Linked DNA regions of Homo sapiens: region 2 is linked to region 1. Evidence: fine-mapped expression QTL. A gene starts in region 1. The other region holds a variant in brackets. All regions are shown on one strand. Distances are from middle to middle.

What was found.
Region 2: its variant is fine-mapped to the expression of JAZF1-AS1 in whole blood (TOPMed, PIP above 0.99).

Annotation. Positions count from the first base shown.
Region 1 is chr7:28,174,355-28,189,489 of GRCh38, forward strand. JAZF1-AS1 (JAZF1 antisense RNA 1) reads left to right here and starts at 6,103. Exons shown (of 4, transcript NR_034097.1): 1 at 6,103-6,185; 2 at 11,316-11,398. It overlaps JAZF1 (JAZF zinc finger 1), which reads right to left and starts at 6,441. Exons shown (of 5, transcript NM_175061.4): 1 at 6,109-6,441. The coding sequence starts at 6,223. RefSeq lists enhancers at 4,660-5,161, 5,162-5,661 and silencers at 5,516-5,635, 12,802-13,002.
Region 2 is chr7:28,233,901-28,249,035 of GRCh38, forward strand. JAZF1-AS1 (JAZF1 antisense RNA 1) reads left to right here. Exons shown (of 4, transcript NR_034097.1): 4 at 6,557-7,477. Among named protein-coding and RNA genes, the nearest start is that of JAZF1, 61 kb to the left of the region's middle. The variant G/A (reference allele first, on the strand shown) is at 6,207.

The sequences.
Region 1 (15,135 bases):
GGCTTCCAAACAGTCCCAGGGAAGCCCCTCATCAAGTGTCACCAGCCTGTGCCAGCCTTAAGGTATCCTCACTGTCACCTACGGGAAGAATTGGGTTTTCTCAAAACAGCTGTCAGTTTGTATTTCTAGAACTGTCAACGTAGGAGATATCTCCGAAATATATGAACTCTAAAGGAAACCATTTTCTGAAGAATATGTGGGTTTTTGTCAACCCAGTCAGTTACAGGCAGAGTTCTGGTGTCTGTACATTTCGGTCACATGTCAGAAAATGTGTATACTAAATGAAAACAATTAGAAGCTTGTGAAACTTATGAGACAGGATGTTCAACAGTGATGTTTTATAAAGGATGATCTGACTGTTTACAGGTGAGAAGAGGCTAATGGAAAAACCAGTGAAAACAGAGTTTTGGAGACTGCCGTAAAGTTTCAGATTTCGGGTTCCCTGATCCTGCCTATGGGGTGTGTGGGTGTGTGTGTGTGTGTGTGTGTGTGTGTATGCACATGTATTTAAAACTCCTAGCATTACACCTGGGGGCTTCTCGGGAACCCTGGGAGTAACAGGGAGATCTTGCCGCCAAGCCACAGGGCACAGGCAGAGAGCAGGGCAGGCAGCAACAAGCCTTTCATTCATTCATTTATTAATTCAGTCATTCCTTCTCCCCACAGGAAGTGTCCTCAATGGAATGCACCCACAGGCCCAAGGCACAGTGCCTCTTTCTAGTCCTGGATTTTTTCAAATAAATTCAGGCCACAAGGAAAGGCCATGTTGGAAGCCGCTGGCTTTGACACCACTTTCCCAGTCCACTGTGGCAAATGCCTCTGCCAGGGTGTAAAGTGCCTCTGGCCACACAAAAGAGAACGTGGCCAGAGGCTGCAACACCAGCACTAGACTGTTGAGGAGTCTCCTATTTTCCATTCTCAGTCCTTCCCAGGAAGAGCCTGATGATGTCATAGTTATAAAATGCCCAAAACAGCACCACTAATAGGTGGATACAACCCATGTTAATCTCGAAGGTAGACTCTGACAGTAGGATTACATATTTATTTAGCAGATACACAAATGGCAAGAAACTAGATGATGTAGACAACTTATTATTGTAGATAAACACTTCACATATATTATCTCACTTAATCCTCACTAACCACTCCGTGAGATGGATGCTGCTACTATCCTCATTTTACAGAGGAGGCATAGTACGGTTAATTTGCCCCTGGTCATAAGGGGGACAAGTGGCAGACATGTGTGTTCAACTCCAAGCAGGCTGGATTCGCTATGCCACTGCTCAGATGACCTTCATCTCGAGTTCAGTTACTTTCTAAAGGAGGAAACAGAGTCAATCGTGTGAGGGGAGGTGAGGAGGGGACTGTCACGTTCTTCACCTAATTGGCAACTGGCATAGGCTTAGCTTTGCATACCTGTCTGGAATTCAAATCTCAAATCATACACATCAGCCACGAAAGCTCAGGCAATTATAAACTGTACCTTAGTTTGCTCACCTAAAAGTGGGAGTAATAAGGACCTATGACATATTGCACAGCTTATCTATTTAGTACACTGTGATGCTCCTTTGAGAAGATAATGCAAATATTTACTAAATCATCTTAGGAGCTAAATTCTACAGTTTTGATAGTAAGTGCCCTGATTTTTTTTTACAGAAACTTTGACCTTTATTAATTAGACGGTTTATAAATCTATACTATGAAATGAAGCACTGTAGGTTTATTACCTGGGTTTTGGAGATGAGGAAACTAACAAGTAGAGACTCACAACAAGAAACCTGTTGATATTCGGGGTCAGGAACCAAGTCATAGCTAATGCAAGCCATTCTTGGTCAATGAGACTCTGCCCCTTAACTGGGCCCTTGCAGGGAAATGTTTCAATAGCAAAGCTGAGGATCCTAACATCTGAGGAAAGTTCTAAATGACCTGCTAGTCTGGTACGATCACATGAATAACTGAATTGGGTCAGATTCCTGTGTTTCTATTCAAGTGCTGCAGGCCTGCCTTGGGGCCTGTGTACTGCCTGCGCCCAGAATGTCCTCATGACTAACTCTCACACCTCCTTCGAGGTTTTGTCTCCCATATCAGCCTCTCAGCAAGGCCCACCCTGACCAATCTATTTAAAATTCTCATACTTTCTCCTCCCAACCCTCCGGACCCTGATCTAGTTTTTCTCTTTTCTGTATCACTAACCACCTCCCAACATACTGTGTATCACATACCTCAATTGTTTATTGTCTGGCCCCCTATCCTAGAATATAAACTTCCTAAAGAGTGATATTTTCATTTTGTTAACCAAAAAATATCAAGTGCTCATAACTTTGCCTGGCATAAACTAGGGACTCAATATATATTATTACATAAATAAATTCAAAATGCAGAGGTACTTTTAAAAATGCACCAAATAATCAAATAAGAATGATTCAACAGTTGTGTTTCTCAGACAAAAAGCCATACGATTTCATAGCACTGGGATGCAGGGTTGTAGCGGCATTTCATGAGCCTGGGACATGACCTTCAGTGCTAAATTTAGTGCTCCTGGTGTTTCTAAGATTCCCAGTTACCAGTTTAACTTCATCTATCTAGGATGTTCATACCAAGAATGTTTCTACAAACTCAATTATCTACTCAAAATAAGAAGCAAGCAAACCTGGACCTGCTTTTCCCATCTCCATGTAACAGACTCAGACCTATGAATGAATTGATAACAAAATTGATGGAAAAGCACTTCACAGTTGCAGGGCTACGGGATTTCTCGGCAATTTAAATTTAAGTGGGGATGGGGGAGAGTTTTAGCTAGGATATTCAGTGTATACACTGAGACAGGTACTCCAGTACTGAACCAGCAGTGAAATGCAAGAAAGAAAACAGGAACACCGGTACAGCACTCTTCCAGGAGAGAAAAGAGCTAAAAAAGTGGGTGGTGAAAATCACACTTCCCTTGGTTCTAAAGCCCCCAAATCCTTGTTCATTATGGGGAGAGGAAAACAGTTAAAAACAAAAGTTAAGCATACACATATAAGATAACAGAGAGTTATTCTCAACTTAATGCACTTAATTAATCCAAACTAAACATAATACTTTTATAATGAAAAACACAGGCCTTGAAAAATCTGCCAAGCAAGAAACACACCATATTCCCATAAATATTCATTTTATCGCTGTTTAAGGGTTTTTACTAGTGGCTAAAGGTAATAACCCAGATAGGCCCCCAAAATGGAATGCTCACCTAAGCATATCTCTAATACTCACGGTTGCTAAATAACAAGACTGTTGAACAAATTAAAAGCAAAATAACACACCTCTTATTCTTTTCATGAATCTTTTTAATGTAACCACTCACCAACAGACATGAAATCAGTAAGTCAATCATTAACGGTCTCCAAATACTTATAGATTGAATCAAAAACGATAAATACCACATAACAATACCTGTCTAGAACTTTGACTAAATGCTTTATATTTTCACCCATGTCTTTTCATCAGAAGTGTATTTATATGACACTATCTACTAATTGGGATATTTTTATTCTTCTTAAGATCAGTTCTTCTTTCTGCATATAGGGCTGCCTTTGATAGTAAAGGGCCTCTCCCCAGCAGAAGTGTATAATAGTTTGAGCCTCTTCATCCTGGGAATTGCAAGTGTTTGTTCATTTTAACATTTGCTTTTCATAAAGTTTGCTGGTTCAAACTGTTTTCAACTGTGTTAGCCCTGCAACACAGTTCACCTAGGTCACTGCTATTGCTGTAAACTTAATTTTTCCACATTTTCACTATTAAAAGGACAACACTAGCCTTCTGGGAATGAGGTAGCATTACTTCAAAGCTGAGTTTTAGAAAACGTATCAAACTCTTAACCTTCTTTAAAAATGTGTGCAAAATATTAAGACAATTTCTACACTTAAAAAAAAAACCTCATGATTCACCAAGTTTTAAACCATCTCAAACTAAATCCTCAAGAAGGATAACTGTCTTTAACACATTTTAATAAATATAATTTATACTGTCTTTTAACCAGCTTGTCTAAGTAGGTAGGCAATGGGGTAAAATTATTACTCAGCTTATATAAATTATAGTTTATTCTGAAATAACTGTTAGCGAGAATGGATGGGATATGCAATGACAGCCTTCTGTAAGTCAAGAGAAATTATTTATTTATATTACTTATATCATACATATTAATGTATAGCATTATCTATATTTATTTTTTACTTATTATTGGGAGTAAGGGGAAGAACTTGAACTAGTAACATTTCTACCAGAACTTCACAGTACCGGTGTTTTCGCTTTATTTTAAACTAGCCATCATGAAAAATCTGATTTAATACTTTCAAGCACTTTCAGTTATGACTATTCAATCATGATATGAATCAGCAAATTGGTTGCTCCATTAAACTGCTTTTAAGACTACCAAAACTTGCCCAGCTCTTCTGTCATACCTTTAGCAGAGGAAATGGAAGAAGCTATTACAAGGACGCCTGAAAACTTGAAAAGTTTCAAAACCTGGACAATTACTCAACAGCATTTTCCTCTGAAAGACATTTTGTAGACGTTTCCCATGATTATCTCCTATTCCGGATGGCCCATCAAATCACATTCTAAACAGGCATTCAACACTTATTAAGCAGCCACTGTGTGCAGAGACAGCACTATACTAAGCAAAGGAGCATAGGGTTCTGCCTCATTTTATTCCTGCATAAATACACAGCAGTCGTGATTTATTCTCTCAACTTTGTAGAAACGTGAGCTGCATCCACATGGCTGAATCCATGGCATTCATTTGGACTTCCTGGGGGCAATTTACAGGTTCTCTGGATTAGACAGCCCCATTGGGACATCGCTCGGACCCTTCACCTTCTAGCCCACGCAGGACAACTCGCTGGCGTCGGTCACACCTTCCGCAGGTGGTTGGACCGCCTAAGCCAGATGCACCCGGCCCACCTCCCTTAGCAGGGGTTCCGAATAGAAGTGTGAAAATGTGTGCAATGACTTCTGCAAATCAGAGGACTTGTTGAAAGGTCCAGGGGTCCAGGCGTGAAGGGAAAGCAGCCACCCTGCGGGGCGCCCCCTCCCCGGCGTCTCCCGGGCCCGGGGCGCTGCGCAGGCCGCCGCCGATCCCAGGGCGCAGCCAGCGCACCTCGGGCCTAGCACCATTAGAAAGGCAAATCGCAGAGCCGGGGTGCATTTAAATGCCCGGCCATGGGCCCTGGGGGTGTCTCTCCAGCGGGCGCCGCCGCAGGGGCCTCCAGGGCGCGTCGACCCCGGGGCGCTGGGCGCGGCCCGCGGGCGCACCCAAGACCTCAGCCCGCAGCGCCCGGGCGTCCGCGCCAGGCCGGGGCAGGGGAGGGCACCCAGAGCCCCCGGGCCCGCGTCCCCGGCCCCGCCCGGGCCCCTCGGCCGCCTCCCAGGGAGAGGGCAAGCTCCCCGGCCCCCGCCCGCGGCCGCCGGCCCCGGCCCCCTCCCGACGCACCACACCTAGCAACCGGCGCTGACAGGACGCAGTGGCGGCGGCGGCGGCGGGAGGAGGAAGCGGAATGGCTGCCGCGGTGGAGCCACCCCCGCCCCCCCGCTCCACCTCCCCGCGGCTGCAGCCGCCGCCGAGCCCTGACAGCTCGAGCCGGGGCGGAAGCGCCCGGCGGCGTGCAGCGCCCGCCCCCCGCTGCCCTCAGCGCCTCGGGCTACTCCGACCACCCGGGCCAACTAACTCCGCGACCCTGCCCAGCGCCCAGCTCCCGCCGCCCGCCGCGCCCTCCGCCCCGCGCCCCGCGCGCCGGCACTCGGCCCCGCCGCCGCAACCCCGCCGCCCCGCCGCGGCGCTCCCCGCTCCCACCACTTCGCAGCCCGCGTGCACGCCCCTGAGTCCCCCAGCCGCCCGCCCGCCCGCCCGCGGCACCTCGGGGCGCCCGCCCCCTCCCCCACCCGAGCCCGCTCCCCGCCCCCCGGCACCTCGCGCCCCCGCATCCCGCCACCCCCACCTCGGGGCTCGCACGCGCCCTCCCCGCCCTGCCGCCTCCCTCCCCGCCGGCCACCCCTGGCCATTCCGGGGCTCCCCGCCCGGGCAGGAGTTTCCGCGCGCCTGGCACCCCCGCCCACCCCCGGGCCATTTACCGATGTGGTTGTCCTCGATGTGCTCGATGAGGTCGGCCAGGGTGGGGAAGTGGAGTCCGCAGCCCCCGAATCGGCAGGTATTGGAGAAGAAGGAGGCGGCGGCGATGCCTGTCATGGTGCTACATCGAGAGCCCCCCTGGTGTCGGCTCTGCGAGCGCCGGGCGGGCGAGGGAGGGAGGGAGGCCGGGTGGGGTGAGGAGAGGAGGGGCTGGGGGAGGGGGAGAGAGGCGGGGTGAGGGGAGCGGCGAGGACGGGACGGAGGGAGAGGGGGCGAGAGAGATGGAAGGAGAGCGAGGAGCCACCGGGAGGCAGAGGGGAGGCGGCGGCTGCGGCGGCGGCGTCGGGAGCGGCGGGGGGAGGGCGGGGGCGGGGGCGGGGGGGGAAGGCCGCCGCAGCTGGGAGGAGGGACCAGGGCGCGCGGCTACAGCTGTGCGGCCCCAACCTCAGCGCGCGGACCCAGGCCTCACCTGCGAGCCCTGCCACCAACTTTATCTCGCTAGGCCTGCCCTTTACGGCTTGCCATCCGTGCCATCTGTTTGGAGCCTCCTTGGTTATGTATATGACGTTCTTAATACACCCACATCGATTAATTACACCTACCTCCCTGCGAGGAGAACTCAGGGAGTTACCCTGGTCCCTCTCAGGGACATTTTTTTGTACTCAGCCACCTGTCTAGGTGTGACACATTCACAGGGGACCCAGGAAAGGTAATTGTGTGCACCTTCTTCTTTAAACCTTCTTTAGAAAAAGTACACATTCTCCGGAGGTTTGTACTAACTAATTGATTTTAATGAAGCTTTCCCTCTAGGCCAGAAAAAAATCTTAGCTTTATTTAAATTTCAAAATAGAGTGCTTGGTTGTCAAGTGCATTTGCCTGTGTTTTACATATGTGCCACGTTTTTTATACTCCCTGCTCCTTCTAGGAAAACAAAAACTAAAATAATTTCATCACCCGAAATTACAGCACCCTACTGCACCCACTCCACCATCTCAGGTCTGGTAATTAACCCATCCTCGTTTCAGCCACTGCAGAAAGGACAGTGCATTGGTTAAGGCTAGAAGGAGCGGAAACAACGGCAAGGGACATAGTGACTCTTCATTTAAAAAGGAAGCGATTTCATCCTGTGAGCATTTAAAGCATAATGTTGACCAGGTAACCACTTAAGGTGAATTTAGTAGCTTCCCTGAAAACCAGCATTTTGCTGAGAATCAATTACTTTCTTGTCCCCACCCCCTCCTCCAGTTGCAGTCATATTTCTTCTGTAAAGTGTGTATTTTCCAGTAGCACTTTTCCAGGTGTCTAAGAAATATTACACATTATCAGCAGTTTATGACCCAACAGTACATTTTTTTTATTAATATTAATATATGCATACTGAATTTAGCATTTTTCCTTAGGGCAAATTTCACTTACCCTCTGGTGCAGATGCATGGAGAAATAGTATTCCTCCCTCCATAAACTCTATGCATCTCTGTCTAGTGTTATTTCTAATAATGGGATTGTTTGCTTTTCATGTAAGTGCTTAGAGTAAAGGCACATGTAATATGTCTGTTGCTACAGGAAGTTTTATGATCTGACCATCACCGGTGGCATTTTCTCTTCTCATCTCTTCTGTCTTGCAGCTCACAAGGTGACAAACTTGCTGAGATGAGATTCGGCTTGGGTGGGGCTGGGGCAGCTGTGTCTTGAAGTTCAGTTTGGTGCCAAGAATGGTTTCATGGGCCCAATGAGGGTGGGGGCAGGGCCCTGGTGGGCCTGATAATGAGCCAGGGACCGAGTTGGCAGGGGACTGAGGCCAAGGCCAGACAAGGGTCTAAAGAGCAGGAGTTAGAATTCTAGATCTTGAATTAGAATTTTGGCAGCTGTGCAGTACATTCAGCTGCCCAATCTGGGAAGGCCTTCAGCTGAGAGCAGGCAGAATATCTGGCAGGCACACACCACACCAAATGACATGGAAATGCAATACAAAACTTCAGCCAAAAATGATGCCAAAACAGCCACCCTTAGAGATGAATGTTAGGCACCCCCACTATGCAGCATCTGGGAGCCCCAAAAGCTTTGAAGAAGTAGCAGTTCTGTCCTCCAGAGGAAAAATTGTCTACGTGGAGTTATTAACTCCCAAGAGTGTGGAGAGGTGGTTCAGGCAAGAGAGTTCCGAGATGGGAAGTGCCAGAAATGTGCAGGTGAAAGATGAAGGAAGTAAGGGGCCTGGGTTTCACTAATGCATGGCTTTCTACTACCTCCTGTCAGTTTCACTATTCCTAAAATAAAACCTTGCTAGACCAAATTGAAAAAAATAGATTTTTTAAAAAATGAAGTGAGCTAAAATAACTTCCAAAGTAAATCAAGATATTGGTTTTTAAGACAAAATTATTTTCTCTACCTTGGATAATTATTACTGTTTTGTAAGGAATCAGTTCATTTTGCCTGAAAATAATCCACCCTACTACTTCTTCATATGTGACTGAAGCTTTGTTTATGTGATGTTCTGCTCATACTACTTTTTAAAAATCTGTACACTCTAGGCATTTCCGGTCTTTATATAAGATACATGATTGTGATCTCTTAGACCTGGAAGATACTCTGGCTGTCAGAACCACTGGTTTTGGAGATGTGGTAAACTGAGGCCGGGGCATCAAGCAAGTTCTCCCAGGTGCACACAGACAGTTTTTTTCTCTGTACTCATGGTGCATTTAGAAGGCATTGATAGACAATAGAAGGACAAATTATATATAGATAGTAACCACAGGCAAAGTTTTTTAAAAATTGCTAATAGCATGCTTACCTTTCTGTACTTATATTTTTAAAATGTTTGTTTCCAGGATATCCCTTTAGATAAAGTCAACATCTAAGCTACAAAAATATATAAAACAAACAATTCAACTTATTACATCCGAGAGAGAAGGTGATGACTGATATACCTCTGTACTGGCAAAAAACATCTGTCTGATTTGGAAAGTAAAAATATTTGAAAGGAGAGGGAAAGTGAGGGAACTGAGAAGTCAGAATGATATGACAGTGGCTGTAGACAAGAAGCATTCTCTGGGTTTAAGAGCCTTTTCTTGAAAACCATCTGTCTCTCCCCAGAGCCCAGTGCCTCCCAATGTATAGGCACAAAGTATGGATGTGCAGTGGCCCCATAATATGGTACTTAGCATTACAAATGGTTTGAGATCGCATAACAGTCTCCCCAAATCCAGCATGTCCAGTGCCCTCGAGATGGGGCAGCTGCCGGAAGGTGTGAATCCACTGGTCTAATGGAGCCAACTGAAGACACTGAGGATCCTGCTTCATACAGCTGTCTGTCCTCCACATACAGGAATTGGTTTATTTTGGCATACACTGATAATCAAAACCGTGCACTTCCTGTGTCCTGTGTGGACATCTGTTAATGATGCAAGAGGATCTATATGAACATTAGATTCTATCTTGAATCTAACTCTATACTGCCTTCAACTGTAGCTTTCTCTGGCTTTTTAGATTGTTTTCCAGGTCCCTCTTGAGGTGCTTTTCAGGTTTACTAGATATTTCTTCTATTGTCACCACTGTGTCGAAGGAGCAGATCATGAACCTTGGTCTTCTTCAGCTCATGCAAGTCTGTGGACGCTTACAATGTCTGATGTTCCCTGGCTCTTGAATGCTAAGGCTGCCACTTCCACCAACAGCAACCTTGGGCTCAAAGGGATGCCTTCTTTTTAGGCTCCATCTTCTTCTAAGGAGGATGATTTCTATTCCAGGTTTTATTGTTTAATATTTATGTAACCAAGTTTTCTGTATTTATTTTATTCCAGCTCAGAAATGAATCAGCTTTATCTGCTCTCTGGTGATTAATTCTCATTTTGTCCCTCAGTCTCATTTTGCCTAGGATTAAGAGCTAGCCTTAGAATGAGTAATGGGGGTATTCTTATTAGTTGCCACCAGTGACCTCATGAGTGTTAGCCCCTAGCTCTCCACCTGGCTGCTCCTGCCTACTGACTGTATACGTAGTTTTGGCATTTATTTCCAGTTCCTTGAAGGACTTTTCCAGAACTAAAGTAGTAAAACACCCACCCAATCACTGCAGTTCTAATTGAGCATCCTGGATCCATTCCACTACATTATGTGCCACACTACTACCCAGATGATAACTCCAAACCCAAATCTGATGGGAGCCACTGCTGCTCAGGCCACCCCAACCTGAGTTTTAGAATAATGTTAACAGAAGCAGCTAAGCAATTACTGTTTCATTTTTGCCTTTAACCTATCTTGATTGAACATCTATGCAAAGCTCCTGTTACACAACTCCAGAAGGCTCTATTTATATAGGCAACTGCATGAACAGTGACCCTGGGATCTGTGCAGCCTTGCAGTCCTGTTCCACTGCGCAAGATATGAGGGATACAATTTGAATAAGACAAGCCCAGTCTCTCCTCACGTGAGAGAGCACTAGGTGCTTTGCAAAGTCCTCCTCAATCTATTCTAAGGGCCTGCTAGGGGTGGCTTGGTTGGACTCCGTGTACTACCCTCTTGGCTGCTCTGGTATCTATTATTTCCCTTCTTTCCAGCTTTGGCTCACTCAGATGATAACTTCAGTTGCTGTTGACTGTAATGGAGCCACTAAGGCCACTAATGCTTGTAAAAGACTGCACAGCCTTTTTTGCCCAAAGATGTGTTTTTAGACGTCACTGATTCTCACCCAGCAATGCACAGTCTTGAGGATTTCTATAACTTCAAAGGCTACTAGCACGTTTTTTGTTCTAGCTTTTTGAGGTTTTACCAGCTCACACTATTGCAGTCCGTTTCCTCTGGACTCAGACAAGTATCACTGGAGATTGGACTAGAAGATCAAATTGGGAATACTCCATGATCTCATCTCCCCTGCTAGAATGTCTTAGTGGTAACTTTCACTACCAGAATAGGCTTCCTGCTTTTCAGTGACCAAAATTGATCCCAGCCTTACCTCCTACAGTTTCCCCACATGTACTGACAGTTCAAGATGTACCAAATCATTTTAGTTTTCTTTCTTCTTCTTCTTTTTTTTTTTTTTTTTTTTTTTTTAAGATAAGATCTCACTCTGTTGCCCAGGCTGGAGTACAGTGGCACGATCACGGCTCACTGCAGCCTCGACCTCCTGGAGTCAAGCGATCCTCCCATTTCAGCTTCCTGGGTAGCTGGGATTACAGGTGCACGCCACCATGCCCAGCTAATTTTTTGTATTTTTTTATAGAGATGGAGTTTTGCCATTTGCCCAGGCTGGACTCGCAGTCCTGGACTCAACCACCTTGGCCTCCCAAAGTGCTGGGATTACAGGTATGAGCCACCGCATGCTGTCATTTAGTTTTCAAAATGCGCTCACTTGTTCAACAAAAACCACCTTGCCTTTCTTTGCAAATATTGTGTAGCCTGTCTGGAACATTCTTTTTCCCTCTTCCCTATTCCCTCCCCCAAATACTCTGCAGCAACTCAGCATGTCATCTCCTCCAGGAAGCCTTCCCTATAACTTCCTCCTCTTCCTTCCCTGCTGAGCTGGATGCCTGTCATCTGTGTTCTAGCCAAATTCCCTCTGCATCAGATTCTGACTGCTGGCTTACTGGTCTTCCATCTCCTGTGTACCAGTAGTTCTCAAACCTTTTGCTCAAGAATCCACTTGAACCTTGATCTCATTAATATTTATATTTACTTATAAATTATATACAGGTGCTACTTTTCACATATAGTATGTATATTATAGGCTGGGCACAGTGAGTCACGCCTATAATCCCAGTACTTTGGGAGGCTGAGGTGGGAGGACATTTGAAGCCAGGGGTTTGAGACCAGCCTGGTCAATATAGCAGGACCCTATGTCTGGCAAAAAACTAAAAAATTAGCTGGGTGTGGTGGTACACCCCTGTAATCCTGGCTATTCAGGAGGCTGAGGCAGGGGGGAATAACTTGAACCCAGAAGTTCAAGGATACACTGAGCTATGATCACACCACTACACTCCAGCCTGGGCTACAGAGTGAGATTCTATCTCTAAACCAAAACCAAATGTAGTATGTGTGTTATGAAATAAATCAAATTCTTTTTAAAACGCAGGAATAGAAGGCCTAGTATCTTCATACCATACCGCAGAGTATTGCCTGGCCCACATCCTGGGGTGAATGCATTCCTCCTTGGAGGCCTCTGCACTTGATGGTAGCCTCCTTGAGAAAAGAAACTTTTATTTTTTTTTTTTTAGCCGGAGTCTCGCTCTGTCGCCCAGGCTGGAGTGCAGTGGCACCATCTCGGCTCACTGCAACCTCCGCCTCCTAGGTTCAAGCAATTCTGCCTCAGCCTCCCGAGTAGCTGAGACTACAGGCGCCCACTACCACACCTGGCTAATTTTTTGTATTTTTAGCAGAGACGGGGTTTTGCCATGTTAGCCAGGATGGTCTCAATCTCCTGACTTCATGATCCGTCCACCTTGGCCTCCCAAAGAGAAACTATCTTTAGGCCTGCACTGCTCAATAAAAGTTGCATGGGAGTATAGTTCAGCACTGTGATAAGGCAGTGTGCTAAGACTTCAGTTTTCAATGTTAAAGCAATTTCTAACAATTTGTTACTGTTCCTCTCTAATGTAGCATCGAGGAAAGATAGTCTTCAATCTCTTAGCTTGGATAGATTACAAGTCATTCCTTCCCGTGGTTGTGGACACACTTTTGACGAGACCTCTTTCTAAGGTCTAGCACAGGGACTGTGCTGCGCCAATAACAGGCACTTAGAAAATGCTTGTCTCATTTGTTTTGATGGTGCTAGTTTACTAGTCTCTGCTGACGCAAAGCCATTCAACTGGACAGAGATAAGCAGGGAGCCATTCAGCAATGACATGAGATCTGACACTAGCTCTCCTTTCGTAGACTGACTACGATACCTTTCCCTTTACACAGATGTTCAAATTCATTATGGTGATTATTTTAAATAACTATTACCACATTCATTGAGTGCCTACTATTGGACTTGATGCCTTAACAGAGAGCAGTTCTTAAATCCTATGAGGTAGACAAATGCTGTTATGCCCAAACTATGGATGAGAAAAACAAGACCCTGGGAAATAAGGTAACTTGCTGAGGTCCTTAAAGCTAGTAAGTGCTGGAACTAGGATTGAACTCAGCTCTGTGTGACTCCAGAGTCCTGGCACTTAACATTCTACCCGTACTTGAATTTGTGGATTATAAAACACTTTTGTTCTCTCCCCTTGAATCTGGGGGCGGGCCCATGCTCACATAAATCACAGAAACTAGGCTAGAGGGGCAACAGCATCCTAGTTTGCCAAATGCACTTAGGTGAGGATACTGAGAATCAGGATGGGGAATTGATGATGGAGATGTCATGAGGCCTCCAGCAGGAACTGAAGCTCTTGGCTTGTCTTTTGCCCTCTGCTTCTCTATTGGGAGGTCCTCTCATTACTGTTACCAAGCTTGTTTCTGGTCTTAAATACCTTATTTTAAAACTAAACTTTATAGAGACGTCAGACTTTTAAAAGATACCCTTGGGTTGCTCTTCACCCTGTTCCTGACAACCTCCACTCTGCGCCTTCCTGCTGGTGATTTTGGGGTGGAGTAGGGAAAACAGGCATCACCTCTCATGAGGAAAGGTGACCCTTTTGCTTTTGTCATGCTCTTTATCTTTGTCTCCTGTTTTGTAAGGACTTAACTCATGTTGCCTTTCAGCTAATTGTTTGGCATAATTATATTTTCTGTTGCAATTTTTGTTCCCAGAGTCACAGAACAAACAGTCCCATTAAACGTCATCTCAATGGGCTCTGCAGCTCAATCCTTTCTTTTCCAGATCTGGACCAATGTGGAGGCTACTTTTGCCTTTCAGAAAATGGACCCAGATTCCAGTCATTTCTCTAGGAAATGACTTTTCCCCTGGGTTTTATAACTCAATTTGCCTTTCTGTAATTTTCATCCCATTATGTGTTTGCCAAGATAAATGATTCTTTCTTCTCTGTATTACCTTATATATGTAATGACTTTTCTTATTTATAAGGCCTCAAACTCAGAAGCCTTAGGGTCAGACACAGGATGCAATGAGAGAAGAGGTGTGTGAATGCACCTTTGTATTGTGTGAATGGTGGGGCAATGGTGACCTGGAGAGAACTGTTCTTTTAAAACACTGGAAGGAAAACACATTCCACCTGCAACCCACAGTTGGCCCATGAACCTTCCAGTTTGCACCCCCTGTTTTTCCTTCCATGCCACGGTGCCCAACTTAGATTACTGTTATTGCCACAACAGCCCAAAAATATCCGGATTAATTATTTCTCATCACTATGAGATTAGATGTAATCTAATTCTTGTTGTTAACAATTCAAGAAGGGTCATTTGCACCTTAAACACATCTTGAAGATAATATCTGAGCTGCCCAGGTAAACAGTCATATCAGAGGGAATAAATAGTTGATAAGGACTGCCTTCCTGGTTCTAACACTTCTTGGTTCTCAACATCGTTCTATATTACCCAGTGCAGATCAGAGTCATAAGAAAATTTTCAACAAGCTGACTATGTAAGTACTACAAATTTATTTAAAGCGAGTGCAGTAAAAGATAATGTTGTATAGTGCCTGACCAGTCTTCATCTATAAAATAATTAACAAAACCCTTCAGTTGGTAGGTTTGGATGGCCCAGTCTTTGCGTATTCCCTCTCCTGTGTCTGCAGCTCAAAGTCACATTACTTGCAAGGTATTCTCTTTAAAAATGTGTATAGTAATCAAACATTTTAGATAACGGTCTTCAGGGTTAGAGCCAACTCATGACTCCAATTTCTTTCTCTCTCTTCCGCCATTCCCATCCTCACTCTCCCCGTCCCAATCCAATATCCCTCCCCTGCTGCCTTTCCCTGCCATCCCCAACCCCCTGAAAATATGGTGCCTTTTCAAGATTGATTCTTGAATGGGGCCTAGGCATGGAGAGTGTTCGGTATTGTGTTTGAGAAAGTTGCACCAGAGACAATAATTCAGGAAAGAAACAAGAAAAAGGAAATTAGGAAAGAAAACTAAAAAGGGGCAGAAGCAAAGGCTGAGAGG
Region 2 (15,135 bases), 60 kb after region 1:
GCCTGCCTGCCTTCCTTCCTTCCTTCCTTCCTTCCTTCCTTCCTTCCTTTCTTCCTTCCTCCATTCCTTCCCTCCTTCTCTCCTTCCCTCCCTCCCTCCCTTCTTTCCTTCCTTCCTTCCTTCCTTCCTTCCTTCCTCTTTTCTTTCTTTTCCTTTCTCTCTCTCTCTTTCTTCCTTTCTTTCCTTTTTTTCAGACAAGTTCTCATTCTCTCACTCAGGCTGGAGTGCAGTGGGGCGAACACAGCTCACTGCAGCCTCCACCTGCCAGGCTCAAGTGATCCTCCCACCTCGCCCTTATGAGTAGCTGGGACTACAGGTGCACGCCACCATGCCTGGCTAATTTCTTGTATTTTTTGTAGAGATAGGGATCTCACAATGTTGCCCAAGGTGGTCTCTAACTTCTGGGCTCAATCTGCCCACCTCAGCCTCCCAAAGTGCTGGGATTACAGGCATGAGCCACCATGCCTGGCCTTTAACTTTATTATTCTATAATTCTCTCATTCCAATGCCGAAGTATCAACGATTCCTGTAAGACTAGCATGAACCACAATAAGTAAATAGATTGCTTATGACTCCGTATCCAATAGCCCTGAATAGTACATACTTAGAAAACAAAACAAAGCTACTTTACTTTAATATCTCTACCCAAAGAAATAATGTTTTTCCATATTTATAATTCATATAAACAAAACAAACTTGCAGCACTCTAAAAATTGAGTTCTTTAGACTTTAAAACTTAAGGCATTTCTATAACTGCTATTAATCACCAGTCTTAAATATATTATCCTCATGTCTTCAGACTCAAGAAGGCTTTTGTCTATAAGTCCATTCTACATAGCTATTTTATTTGGAAGAGAGCATAACGCAGATGACAAATGATTCATTGTTTCTGGAGCAAAGCAATATTATTCCAGAACAAAAGGAAAGAGAAAAATAGTAACAAACATTGTGATATTTTTGAATTTGGATTGATTTGATCCTTCAACACTGTTCTAAACTATCATATTTCTATTTGATTACTTTTTTTCCTAGTCATATCTTTAACGACAAAAAAATAATGTTTGAAATCTTGCATATGTGCTCGGGTATTTAGTAACTTAAGACATTCGTACTGCATTGAATTCTATCGCACGCAAGAAATTAGAAAACACAAAATCAGTGTAACAAAGCCAACATGGGATTTCTGAAAGGCTTTAATTCAACATTTGTCACAAATGTTGACTAATCACCTTCTCTGGTCTCGTTGTAGTGCTAGGCACCAGAGATAATGCAGTGAACCAGACAGACACCATCCCTAGCCTCATAGAGCTTGCAATTAAAAACCATACTCCAATGGAAATAAGGAAAGAAAGAGGCAAATGCCCAGACCTCTACTTGCTCTTCTGGTCTTCCATTGCCTTCTCAGCTGTTAAACCAACTCTTTGTGTCATTTCCTTTTTGAACAATGAAGGGCCTGCTACTGGCCTAACTTATAAGGAAAAGCTCATAAAATTGATTTGCCAGATTGACTCACAACCCAAATGCATCTCATTTTTATGGCATAAAACGAAGATGTAGTGTGAATAACAAACATACTTACTTTAATGGATGTTAATTGTATTCTTAGTCCCTCTCCAGGCAATTAATATTTTCCCTTGCCATTTTATACATAAAGATCCTCTGAAAAACTCAGCTAAGGGCATAACAGGACTGTTGTCAGTGACCATGGATCCTAAAAGATCCATATAGGCTCCCAGGGCAAGCTGGTCATGGGTAAAACTGTGAAGGTAACGGTCGCTGATCATTGTTGCCTCTCCCTGGAGTGACGAGATATCTCCTTCCCACCCTCTGCATCCAGCATCTCATACTTGTGCCATCCTTTCCTTGTTAAAAGGTTTTCAGGAACTGATCAAGTATTAATGTCCAAAGAATAATAAAACGTGAATTTTAGCGAAAGTCAAAAGGGTGAATTTAGCAGAAAACAAATCTTTAAATCAAAGGGATAGCTCTACATATGTAATTTAAGGTATTAATTAGCATATAGAATATATCTGGGCAGGAGAAAAGTCCAGATATAAAATAACTCTAGAACAAAAATAAGAGAAAACTAGTTAAACATTGGTGGGTGGATGACAGGCATCTGGGTGTAGTAGGGAAAGCCCAAACTCTGGATGAAAGAACATACCTGGGTTCAAATTATTCCTGAGCCTCAGTTTCTCCAACTACAAAGTGGGAACAATGACATCTATAAGATTTTTTCTATTTATGGGATTAAATATGATAATGTATGTAAAGTACATGGACCACATGAGCTTATGCCATCATGAAGTCAGACCACAAAAGTGCTTGCAAATTCTGCATATGCGCACTTCCTGAATGCATTTTCCTATCCGTAAAATGAGGTACAACAGGATTTTCAGCTGAGTCTGAACCCCAATAATTTGGAATACCGATGGAAAATCATGGAAGGGAGAGTGGGAAAAGCAGACTTTGTTTTGTTTTTGTTTTTGTTTTTGTTTTTGAGACAGGATCTCCCTCTGTCACCCAGGCTGGAGTGCAGTGGTGCCCTTTTGGCTCACTGCAACCTCCGTTTCCCAGGCTCAACCGATTCTCATGCTTCAGCCTCCCGAGTGTCTGGGACTACAGGAATGCACCACCACCCCGGCTAATTTTTGTATTTTTTGTAGAGATGGGGTTTCACCATGTTGACCAGGCTGGTCTCAAACTCATGAGCTCAAGTGATCCACCCGCCTTGGCCTCCCACAGTGCTGGGATTATAGATGTGAGCCACCGGGCCGGCAAAAGCAGACTTTTTTTTAAACTTCAGTTTGTTTTTCTAGAGCAAAACAGTGGGGTCTTTAGTTTGCATTAGAATTACTCAAGAAACTCCTCCCCACCTTTAAATGTTCATTTATTTATCACAATGAACAGGAAACATGTAAGCCAGGTAGCTTTTTCCTCAGGAAATTTGTTTTTAAATGCACATTCTGGGGCCCATTCCTATGAAATTCTGATTCAGAAGATCTTTGGGAATCTGCATTTTTAAAAAGTTCCATAGGTCATTCCGAGGCAGGGCAGCTGTGGGCAAACTTGGAGAAACAGGGCTGGAGAGAGAGTGCCTTGATTTCCACTTTGAGAACACAGTGTTTGAGAGTCTCTTTAATGTGGTATTTGGTAATGTAAATGGAAAGCAAAACTCCTTTCCAAAGTGGAAGGATTTAAGACAATGAACAACTAAATTGATTGGCAAAGTAAAGTAAAGGCCGTTTTCATTGTGAAGTGAAATCTTGGCAATGTGTTTCTTTAAGGAAATGCTTCTTGTTCTTAATATAGATTTGGGCTGCTACGAATCTGGATATTCTTTTGGTTCCCAAAGAACCAAATCATTACGCCAGGAGGGCTAGAGCTGAGGTGGGCATGAACAAAGGATGAAGGAGTCTAGTTTCTCTTTGCTAATGTGAACGGAACACAGAGGTGGGCCTGGTAGTTCCAGAGCCCAGCACCTTCAGTTCTGTGCGCAGTTCCCTCTTGGTGTTTTTTTATACCAGATGTTTCAAAATGTGAAAAAGATGCTACTGTCAGCTTGAATTCGGATGCCTTGTCCTTTTCGCAATAGGAGGTGGGGCCTTCCTGAATGTCAGGGCTTCCTGGGTGGTTGGCCATCCTGGAAGGCAGAAGTTTGTGAGCAGTGAAGTTTTCCTTCAAACATTGGTTGGGGCCTGGGCTCTGGGAGAAGACAACTGGTCTAGGGGCTCTTGCTGGGGAAGGCGCTGGCCACTGCAAAGTGGTGGGCGCAGGCCAGGGATGAAGGAGAAAGTGCTAGTAGGCCACTTTCCTCTGGAAGGGCTCCTCTTATGATTCTGCTGGCAGTCACATCCAGTGTGAAGGTCTTTGTTATTCTTTGATCTTTTATTCTTTTTTGTTATTTCCAATCCTTCAGTAAAGTTGGGCACTTGAACAGATTTTTCAGTTCCACAAATTGAAGAGCACCTCCCATATTCTAGGATACTGAAGTTAGCATGGCAGACAAGTGTCCTATCTTTATGGGCTTTCTAACTTTAGATCCTGAGGTCTGAAGGGAATTAAGGAATGAGCTGGCATCCAAAATTGGACTGGGTTGTATGAGGTGAGCTACACAAAGGGTCCGCACTCCTGCTGTGGACCTGGCGGAGTTTGCCTGGAGCGACACAGATCTGACTACTCAATCCACCTTGAGGTTACCACTGATGGTCTGTTATCCTTCTCCCCTATAGAAAATCCTTTTAAATTTGGATTAAAGATTTATAGAGCTTTACTAATGTCTTCAAAGAACGGGCATATGCAGTTTGAACTCTATCACAGAAGCAATTCAGTTCTTTGCAACTAAAAACATTGGCTTCTACTTGAAGTATAAGTAAAAACTGCCTGATTGACTTGATGAAAATGAGAATTGTTTGTAATTAGCAATCACTTGATTGGCATCCAAATAGCAGCCTGTTTGCTCTCTTGAAGCATGCTCAAATCACTCACCATCTTACTTTAAGAAAAATTTCTTTCAATTACAGATGTAATGTATGCTCCTATTGAAAATTTAGAAAATAAAAATGAAGAGAAGGAAAAAAAAGATTATCAATAGTTTCACTTACATATACATTGTGATTTATTTTCTTCTTCTGACATACAAACAGTTGCCACTTTATGAAGGTTTGACCTACAATTTTTCACTTTTTGTACATTGGTACAAAAATGAAATGCATTTAGTAGAAACCATACTCCAAGTATCCACCCAACAATTCTCAGTACAGTATTTAATATATTACATGAGATATTCTACACTTTATTATAAAATAGGCTTTGTGTTAGATGATTTTGCCCAACTGTAGGCTAACGTAAATATTCTGGACATGTTTAAGGGAGACAAGTTTAAACTATGATGTTCTGGAGGTTAGGTGTATTAAATGCATCTTCACCTTATGATATTTTCAACTTAAGAATGAGTTTATTGGGACGTAGCCCCATCGTAAATTGAGAAGCATCTGTATTGATTTTTAAACAGTTGCAATTTCATGGTATATGTGCAATTGCATAGGCTGGTTTCTTAAAAATCTGTTTTTAAAATATCTGCTAACTATATAAAGCAGGAAAAATATCACTTAGAAGTCTACCTCCCAGAGGCTGGGCACGGTGGCTCACACCTATAATCCCAACAATTTGGGAGGCCGAGGTGGGTGGATTACCTGAGGTCAGGAGTTCAAGACCAGCCTGGCCAACATGGTGAAACCCCACCTCTACTAAAAATAAAAAAATTAGCTAGGCATGGTGGCACACCCCTATAATCCCAGCTACTCGGGAGGCTGAGGCAGGAGAATTGCTTGAGCCGGGGAGGCAGAGGTTGCAGTGAGTCAAGATCGTGCCACTGCACTCCAGCCTGGCCAATAGAGAGAGACTCTGTCTCAAATAAATAAATAAATAAATAAATAAATAAATAAATAAATAAATAAATAAATAAATAAAAAGTCTACCTCCCAGAGAAACTATCCCTTCCTTCCTTTAACATCTGGGTGCATTTTCTTATAATTCCTTTTTTTTAAACACATAGTTGTGTTTATGCTGGATTAAAGTTTTGTTAATATGCACAGATCTTGTAAGAAAGAGTTTCAAGAGGCTCAGTTGCAGATCATATCTGTTATTGGTGGTTTAGTAGTCTTTCCCAATTAAACCTCAATGACTCAGGACTCTCAGTATGACTTTTAAAGGTGCAGAAAGCCATCACTTATGTTCCATGGCAGAAAAAAAAGGACGATTATGTTGCACTATGTCATTCTACTTTTGTGCAGGGAAAATACCTTTTGAAAGTAATTCTCCTGGTTCAGTTTCTTAACAGTGTGACCCACATAGCCAATGTTAGCAAGCACTGGAAGAGAACACTATTAATTACAGCTTTAAGTGGCCACTAAACATGCAGAAGATTTCCTCTGAACTGAGAGTTGAAGGATATGGTGCAACAAGCCCATTTCCTGGCACTGGAAAGCGGAGAGAGAGCTGCAGGAGAGGCGGTGGTGAAGGAAGCAGTGCAGGGCCATGCGTGGCCCCCGACGTGGGCATTCGGCTGGAGCTCTTGATTCTAGGTCCCAGCCTGAGTACACGAGGATTCCTCTGGCCTGTTAGCTACAACTTCCTCTTCTGGAGGTCTTACTTGTCATCTATGTCTTGGTCGTCTGCATATATTTTCTAGAAATTTCCTCAAG[G/A]TACTGTGATGATTCACTTTCTGAGATGTCACAAACTTGAGAATGACTTACTATTGTCTTCGTATATGTGTGTGTGTGCATACACACACACACACATACATATGCATGCATTCTGGTGTCATGACCCTTTCCCTAAAGTCTTTATTGTCTTCTGAAACTTACTATTATAGATGTCAAGACTGAGCAAAACCTGATTTGCATCCTTTTATAGAACCTTTTGTTCTTCTTATTTTAATTTTTAGTTTAATAATTTTTCTAGAATATATATATTGTGGATACTTGTTTTGTAAACCCCTCAACTATACTTACTTTCTGTGTGATCCAGTTTGTTTTCCCCCTTTCTCTTGCAGCCCTTCTACCGTGAAGGTGAGCCGTGAAGTCTATTGCCCAGGGATTGGGGACGTTTGTATTAAAGAAGGTTTTGGAGTACAGAAGCAGGAAGATGTGTTGTGGAGATGCTGTTGGCAGAAACAACTGGCCTTGACTAAACAAACCAAGAGTTCCTACAGGAGCAGAGGCAACCGGGTGAAGGCTGACGCCCTTGCACAGGCTTGGGCAGCTCTTCTCCACATGTCCACGTGGCTCACTTCCTTACCTACTTCAGGGCTCTGCTCACACGTCACCTCCTCAAGAAGGCCTTCCCCAACTACCCTGTCCTCACTCCCACCCCTTACCCCTGCATTCCCTGTCCCTCTCACTCTGCTGTGGTTTATCCTACCTGACATAGAACAGGTTTATCTCCCTGTTGTCTAGCAGGCTTTTATCCAGTTCTGCTTTGCCGGACTGTATTAAGTAAGTCTCAGTTCCTGGGCTTTATCACTCAGCATGGGTGGAACACACGAAAATGGGATTTTCCTGTTCCCACTACAGCACTTTTCTTGTGGATACCACATCTCCCCATGTGCAATATTCTATTCCCATCTCACTCTTACCTTGTGCAGAGCTATTTTCTCAGAGCATGAGTCTCTGAACGGAAAATCTACTGCTTTGTGCCCTGCCTGAGGATAAGCTTCACCAGAGCAGTCTATATTGTTGTTGCTGTTGTTGTTGTTTATTGCTGTATTCCTAGCTTCTAGAACAGTGCCTGGCATGGCAATCAGTGGCATGAGTAAATTTATGAGTATATATAATGGACAAGTTTGGGAGAAGATAATTAGTTTGGAAACGGGAGAGTTTAGTGGGAGAGACAGGGCCCTGACTACCTCAAAAAGCAGCAGTACTATAAGAGGACAGAGTTTCTATTTTTCTGCCTGGTCTAGGACTTGTACTGGTCTTTCAACTTGAATTCATGCAGCAAGACAGTGGTGGTGAAAAGATAAAGGCATTTCTACCTGGGTAGACAGTTTCTTTTTCTGGAGACAAGAATTGAGAAGGCCTACCAGATTCTGGCAGTGAGTTGACTGTACTTGTTTTTAGCATTGTGAATTTTTGCCTTCATATGAATTTAAGTAGGGAGTTTAGCAATGCTGTTTCAGGGTTTCCATCCAGATTTTCCGTTTCAAATTGGACATCTATTTGCACCTTTAATTCGCGTAACAAATACTTCACAGAGAATACAAAGTTGAATTATGGGCAGCTCAATTCATCCCCCCAAAGGCAGACAAGAGATGGCAGGTCCAAGTTATGCCTATATTACACAGTAGAGATTATTTTAAGTGTTTTGTTATTGCTTCCAAGTTCACACAAATGCTTCTTACTAATTTATATTGGTCACATTCACTATTCTTATTTGGTACTCATTAGTGACTTTGTACTCTCTTAAAGAAAATAAACCTCCAGATTAACTAAAACATTTAAATATGAATTGTACATAGGCTTTATTCATTTATAAAATGCAAAGAAATTAAGATTAAAAGGAAAACCACATCAAAACCCAGAGACATAAATAAAATGCATTTAAATGGCTCTTTGGTAGTTTATTGATGCTGAGATAGTTTTTTTCTCCCCTTGAAAATATATAAAATTTTCTTTTCATCTTCCCTGAAGCATATCCAAATAAGTTAGTGACTACATAATTAATATCCAGGTATTTTGTGATATTTGGATAATAGGCTTCAACTTCTTCTAAACTTATTTTATATTTCAGACCACACATTTGCCGTTTGTTGATAATGTTTTTGGTTGCAGCCTGAGATATTTCCAGGTCTAAAGCCAGGTTCACATTTTGCTTTGAAGAGACAGAAATTCCAAACAAATACAGATAGTCAGGCCATAAACTTAATTAAAATTTCTGCTTTACTGGATGTTACATTAAATATGGCCATAATGCCAAGAGAAATACTTGAAAAATCCATTTGCATCCACATACTGCTGCTTCCACATAGAATAAAATAACAAAATGCTAAGAAGTACATGTTTGTGTGTATGTGTGTGAGAGCACATTTGTATTAAGCTAGTTCTCTCTTTTGGCTGGGTGGCCATACTAGTCATATTTTGACTAATAAAAGATTTTTTAAAAAAAATTTAAAATTAATTTTTTTTTTTTTTTTTTGAGACCGAGCCTCCCTCTGTCACCCAGGCTGGAGTGCAGTGGAGTGAACTTGGCTCACTGCAACCTATGCCTCCTAGGTTCAAGCAATTCTCATGCCTCAGCCTCCTGAGTAGCTGGGATTACAGGCATGCACCACAATGCCCAGCTGATTTTTGTATTTTTAGTAGAGATGGAGTTTCACCATATTGGCCAGGCTGATCTCCAACTCTTGACCTCAGGTGATCTGCCTGCCTTGGCCTCCCAAAGTGCTGGGATTACAGGTGTGAGCCTCGACACCTGGCCTAAAAGATGGGTTTTAATTAAAATCTGGGATTGGCCAGCTCCATATCTGTTAACTTTCCCATATAGTGCTGGAGCACTAATTTAGAGAGCTTTTGAACTACTGTGTGGTTTGTCTGCCTCCTTTTTGTGTAAATCTAGGACATCTTTTTTTTTTCTTTTTCAATTTGCCTGGAATATTTTCTTATTTAGAATTCTATGGAGATCATAACTCATCTCCAGGAGAGTGAACAAGGTCACTCATAGGAAGGTGGAGCATGTCTTTCTTATACAATTGGAAGGGAGGAAGGGACCCAGCCCTGTCATTTACAGGTGAGGACTCTGTGTCCCAGGAGGGCAAGGGAACATGCAGAGTCTGGTGTGGTGAGCACAGGCCAAGCCCTGTGCAGATGGGGCAGTGAGAGCAGAAAGGACGGCTGGGGCCACATTTGACAGGTCTGGTTGACCCTGCAGTAGGACATCATCCAGAATTTCCATTAGATGCCTTAGTCCCAATTCTTCAGAAAGAAGGGCTTGAGAGCAAGCCTATGTATGAAGTCTTTATTGGTGAGTATGATCCCAAAGAGGAGTAGGGTTGTAAACCAGGAAAGACGGGTAAGTCAGCCACTACAGTCAACTGGTTGTTCTGCCCATCAGGACCTTGTGAGGAGCCTAATGAATTGTAGCCTGGGACCCTCTGTCATGGGTTGAATTGTGTTTCTCCAGGATTCATATGGTGAATTCCTAACCCTCAGTATCTGAGAATGTGACAGCATTTGGAGATAGGGCCTGTAAAGAAGTGATTAAGATAAGTGAGCCTGATAGAATGGGCCCTGTTTTAATCTGACTAGTGTCCTTTTAGGAACAGAAAATTTGTACACACACAGAGACATCAAGGATGCATGTTCACAGAGGAAAGGCCAGGTGAGGCCATAGCAGGAAGGCGGTCATCTGCAAGCCAAGAAGAGAGACCTCAGAAGAAACCAACCTGCTGACACCTTGATCTTGGACTCCCAGCCTCCAGAAGTACGATAAAATAAATTTCTGTTGTTTAAGTCACCAGTCTATCGTGCTTTGTTATAGCAACTCTAGCCAACTCATACGTTCTTTGACAGGGAAAAAGAAAGACTTCAAGTTTTGACTCTTAGAGGGCTCGTTGCCTAGCACTCTGGGTTGCATATGCTTGGGTATGAAGAAATTTCCCCTGGAGTCTCATGCATTGAGGTCAACAGAGATGTCCCAGGGCAGGAGATGACAGGAGCACAGCTGGGTGGCAGATGTGAGAAGCAGATTGGAGCCTATGCGGAAGTGGACTGCAGGGGTTGAGAGGTGGGGAGGGGAGACAGGTAAAGCTGGGAGGAGCAAAAGCAGAACTGAAGTGGTGTCTAATACTCAAGGTAATAATGGTATTGATAATAGGGATACTGATACTGGGTGATATTTATTGAGCATATTTTATGTGCCAGACACTGGGCTATGCACTTTACATAAACTATTTCCCTTTCTATCTCACTAACTCTCCAGCAAACACTCTAGGATTTAGGTACCACTCTTATCCCTATTTTACAGACAAAGAAACTGAGGCATAAGGAGTTTCAGGCACTTATCCCAGGGTCATAACAGCTACTAGTCAGTTGCCTCAACTCAAGTGACCTGGCTCCAAATTTTGCATTCTTACTCTGCTTTTTCTTGATGCTGTCATTAAAAAAGTGTTCTAGAAAGATAAATTTGAACAGTTATTTTAATTCATTTTAATTTCATATACAAGTTATTTTTTAAAGAAAATACAAGGTATTCTATGTGCAAGATTATCACAAAAAGATCAATATAATAGAGTGGTTAAGCATTCTGACCATAGAGCCAAGTTCCTAGGTTCAAATCCCAGCTCTACTATCTTCCTGCTATGAGAATTTGGGAAAGTTACTCAACTTTTCTGGGCCTCACTTCAAACCTGTGGATGATAAAAACAGCCCCTACCTCATAGAGTTAGTCCCAGTTTTCCAGAAAGGGAAGGATTAAATTATTTAATATACATAAACTGCTTTTTGTACGTAATGAGTACTAGAGGTTTTTATTAGTATAATCTTTAAAAATAATTTAGCTGGGCACAGTGGTGCAGACCCGTAGTCCTAGTTACTCAGCAGGCTGAGGCAGGAGGATCTCTTGAGCCTAGGAATTTGAGGTATACAGTGAGCTATGATCATACCACTGCACTCCAGCCTGGGCAACAGAGCAAGACTTTGTCTCTAAAAAAGTAATAATAATAAAATAATACATAAATAAATGAGGAAAAATTGACCAGATGTGACTTTCAATAACTCTTACTCATATTAAATTCTTGAATTTTACATGTGGATCTCTGAATTTTTGCAACACTTCAGTTGCCATGTAAGCTAAGGGACACAGTTTTTTTGAAGTACTGGTCACATGTCAGCTGTTAAACATCACGTTACCGGCATCATAAATGAAGTCACCATTTGGCAAATAATTTGTTGGCAGGAGTGGCTCTCACCAACAGGGAAAACGAAAAAACACAAATAAAATCCCTATTGCAATTATTTAACGCATTTCAGACACATGGCTCAGCAATTTTTTCAACTGCAAATCTCTTTTCCTTCCATCTTTGAACTCAGATGGCTGAGCTGTGCGGAGGAATTGAACTGTCCGGTAAATCCATTTATTTATTTATTTATTTATTTATTTATTTTTTCTGTAGCTGTCACTTATCTGCAGGTGACGCTGTTTACCACAGAAAAAGATAAGCACATTAGGGAAACACATGCATGGTCTTTGTCTTAAAAGGCCATAGTTTGTTAACTGATTGCTTTAAGTTAACGTGGGGAACCCGCATGAATGGTTGCAATAGTTGTCCTTATGTCATTTCCTCCCTTTCAAGTGTAGATAGAGCAAGTTTCCTCATCTGAGAAATGAAGGGGGTTGGACCAGATATCCTCCAAGCTCCCTTTTGGCTGTGACATTCTGTGGCTTCAGATTCTCTTCTTCTTGGGCAGGGTTTTTGGTTTTTAGGGCACTGAACCCAAACAGCCCTACCTGCTAATTTCAGTTTGGGCTGCTGTGAAGACAAAAGGCAAGGCCTGACGTTTCAGTAAAGCATTATAACATATAAAGTGGCTTCACATATGCATCCTTTATAAAATCCTCCCAGAAACTTCCAAGGAATTTTGCAGATGAGGAGAATGAGATCCCAGGAGGTCAAGTGACTTGTCCAAGGCCACACAGCTTACAGGAAGCAAGGCCAAGTTTAAAACTCAAGTCCTTTTATCTGTTGGTGCAGTGTTATTTGCAGCATGCCACAGTCCCTCACAATCCAAGGGATAAACCTGATGAGATTATGTGAACTCTTTCAGTTCCTTCAGCCAATCGGCCAGCATTGACTCTACTAGTTCTGATTGGGTCATGTGTATAACTCTGAACCAATCATTGTGGCAAGGGCAGTGTAAAATTTCTGATTGGCCAGACCTAGTCACAACCTTCCCTTGAAACGTGGAGAGGTTCCCTGAAACACAAAGCTAAAAATAGGAGATGAAAAAAAAAAAATTAAGGGCCCTCATCAGACAAGACAGAATAAATGATGCACAGAAAAATAAGAAAATTCGCATTGCCCACAGAGAAAGAATTTCCCCTAAGATACACTTCAAAAAGAAGTTGTTTTAAAATGTTTTATTTTCTATTTTGTCTTAATTGAATTTAATTTTTGCAAAAGCAGTTTTTTTTGAACTGATGTCAAATCGAATACTAACTCAAGGGTGGTTGAGGGAGCACAATGATAAAAGCCCAATCATTTCAAGTACAGGGATTTCTGAAATTCACATCCATTTAGTGCATTTGGGTCCCAGCTCAAATGAGATAGGCTCATTCTTCTTTGGGAAATGAAATAAGGATTTGAACTGCTCTCAATCAGATCAAATCAACAAACATTTCTTGGACACCTTATGTGTAAGGTGCCCAGGATAAAGAGAGGTGGCTGAGCCAGCCACGTTTCCAGCTTTGTTAATTTGACAATACCTTCTAGTTTTCTGTTTCTTGCCTTGTGATCCCCAGATTTTATACCTGTGAGAAATTTTACTTGTTGGGCGTGCATCATTCACATTCCCTTTGGCTTCTAGAAGCTGCTCAAAAGGTTTTTTTTTTTTTTTTAATTGCTTTTGGATTATATTCTGTTGAGCAAAACTTTCCCCGTGGTTGTTATGGCAACTTTCAAATTGCAAGAGTTAGATGTCAGCCCAGAGGTTTGACAAACAGATGACTTCCAGACAGAGGGGCTGATTTAGGAGTTTTGGATGGGGACACAGGGCTTTTACTGTACTCTGAATTAGTTTACATAATTTGCAAATTGTTTTGGTTCAAGTAAGCTAACCTCTGAACCAACCATACAGTGTTCGGTTACATTCCAAGTCCCTACAAGGAACTACTCAATTCATTCATTAATATTCTGTAAGTTTCAACTAGCAGCTAACTAGTTAGCCCATAGATGTGGGGGCAGTGGACGGTGTCTGCATCTTGCCGTTGTTAGCAAGCTGGGTGCGGTTGTGCTTTTGCTTCACATGTCTCCTAACTCGTCCTCAAGTTTTACTGGCTTCCAAAAACACGAATCCATCCCATTACTAAACCTCTGTCCAGAAGCCTGACTCTTACACACTATCTGGGACTACCTGGGACTGTTAGGCTGAATGTGATTGCAAATCATAATTTTCTCAGTGAAAGGAACGTGTTCCTGTTAAATTCAGGGTTGTGGCTTCCCCCTCCCAAACCCCCAACAAAGACTCTTAGTCTACCTTTTCATTGAGAGTCTGTATAGTTATTTTTTGTTTTTATTGTTATTGTTGTTTGTGTTTTCATTAGGACAAAGAGTTATTTGTAGTTCCAGTTCTTGAAACTAAAGTCTATTCCTTTAAATTGTCATGTAAAGGAAATAAAAAAAAAAACTGTTGAGAGGTAATTCACATACCACAAAATTCGCCCATTTTGAATATGTAATTCAATAATTCTTAGCAAATTTACAGAGTTCTATAACCATGATCACAATCCAAATTTAGAACATTTCTAACACCCCAAATAGAAACCCAGTGCCATTTTAATCACTTTCCAGTCCCACCCCAGCCCCAGGCAACCAATAAAGAAGGATGATTTATCCTTAGTCTACTTGGCTTCACTACTAAATCCTCAAAGTCCCTTTTGGGATTCATGAATGACCATCATTCCAGGAAAAAAATAAAGGAAACAAAACCTTTATTACTTTTTTCCTGGTTATAAAAGTAAGACATGCTTATTGTGAAACAAATTCAAAATTTAAAGAAAAATACTTTTAAAATATGTGATTTGTAGCAGAAAAAAAACCATTGTTATATTTTGGCATGAAATATTTCAGGTTTTTAAATCATATTAGAAACAATAAATATTTATAGTGGAAAATTGGGAAAAATACTTAGAAGCACAAATAATTTTAAAAATCACTTAATTTCACTATCCAGAGATAATCTCTATGTATTAGTTAGCTTTTTCAGTGTAACAAATGGCCTCAAAGAGCTCAGTGGCATAAAACAATGAGCAATTATTTCTTGCTTATAGTTCTATGGGTAGGCTTGGGCAGCTCTGTTTCATGCTACAGGCCAATTTTAGGTTTGTTTCACAGATGTCACTTTATTTCTTAAACTCAGTAATTACTTGGAACATGTCTACTCAGAGGATTAGTGGAAATGTGATATTTCTTAAGGCCTGCCATCAGACCTGCCATACTCCATGGCCCAAAACAAGGCACATGGAGAAGTCCAACTTGAATGGGCGGGGAAGCATACTCCTCTCATGGTGATACTGGGGGAAGGGAGCCAGTATTTGCTAAACAGTATATCAGTACCCTGTAAAGATTTTGATGTCTAGTCTTTTCTTTTTTCCCCATATAATATTTGTATAAAAACTTTTTTCTGTTATGAAAATGGGTTCTTTCTAATAAGCACATGAAAAGATGCTCAACATCACTAATATTAGGGAAGTACAAATCAAAACCACAATGAAATACCACTTCACACCCATTAGGATGGCTATTCTCAAAAAAACAGAAAACAACAAGTGTTGGTGAGGATGTGGAGAGACTGGAACTCTTGTGCACTATTGATGAGAATGAAAAAGGGTGCAGTTGCTACAGAAAACAGTATGGCAGTT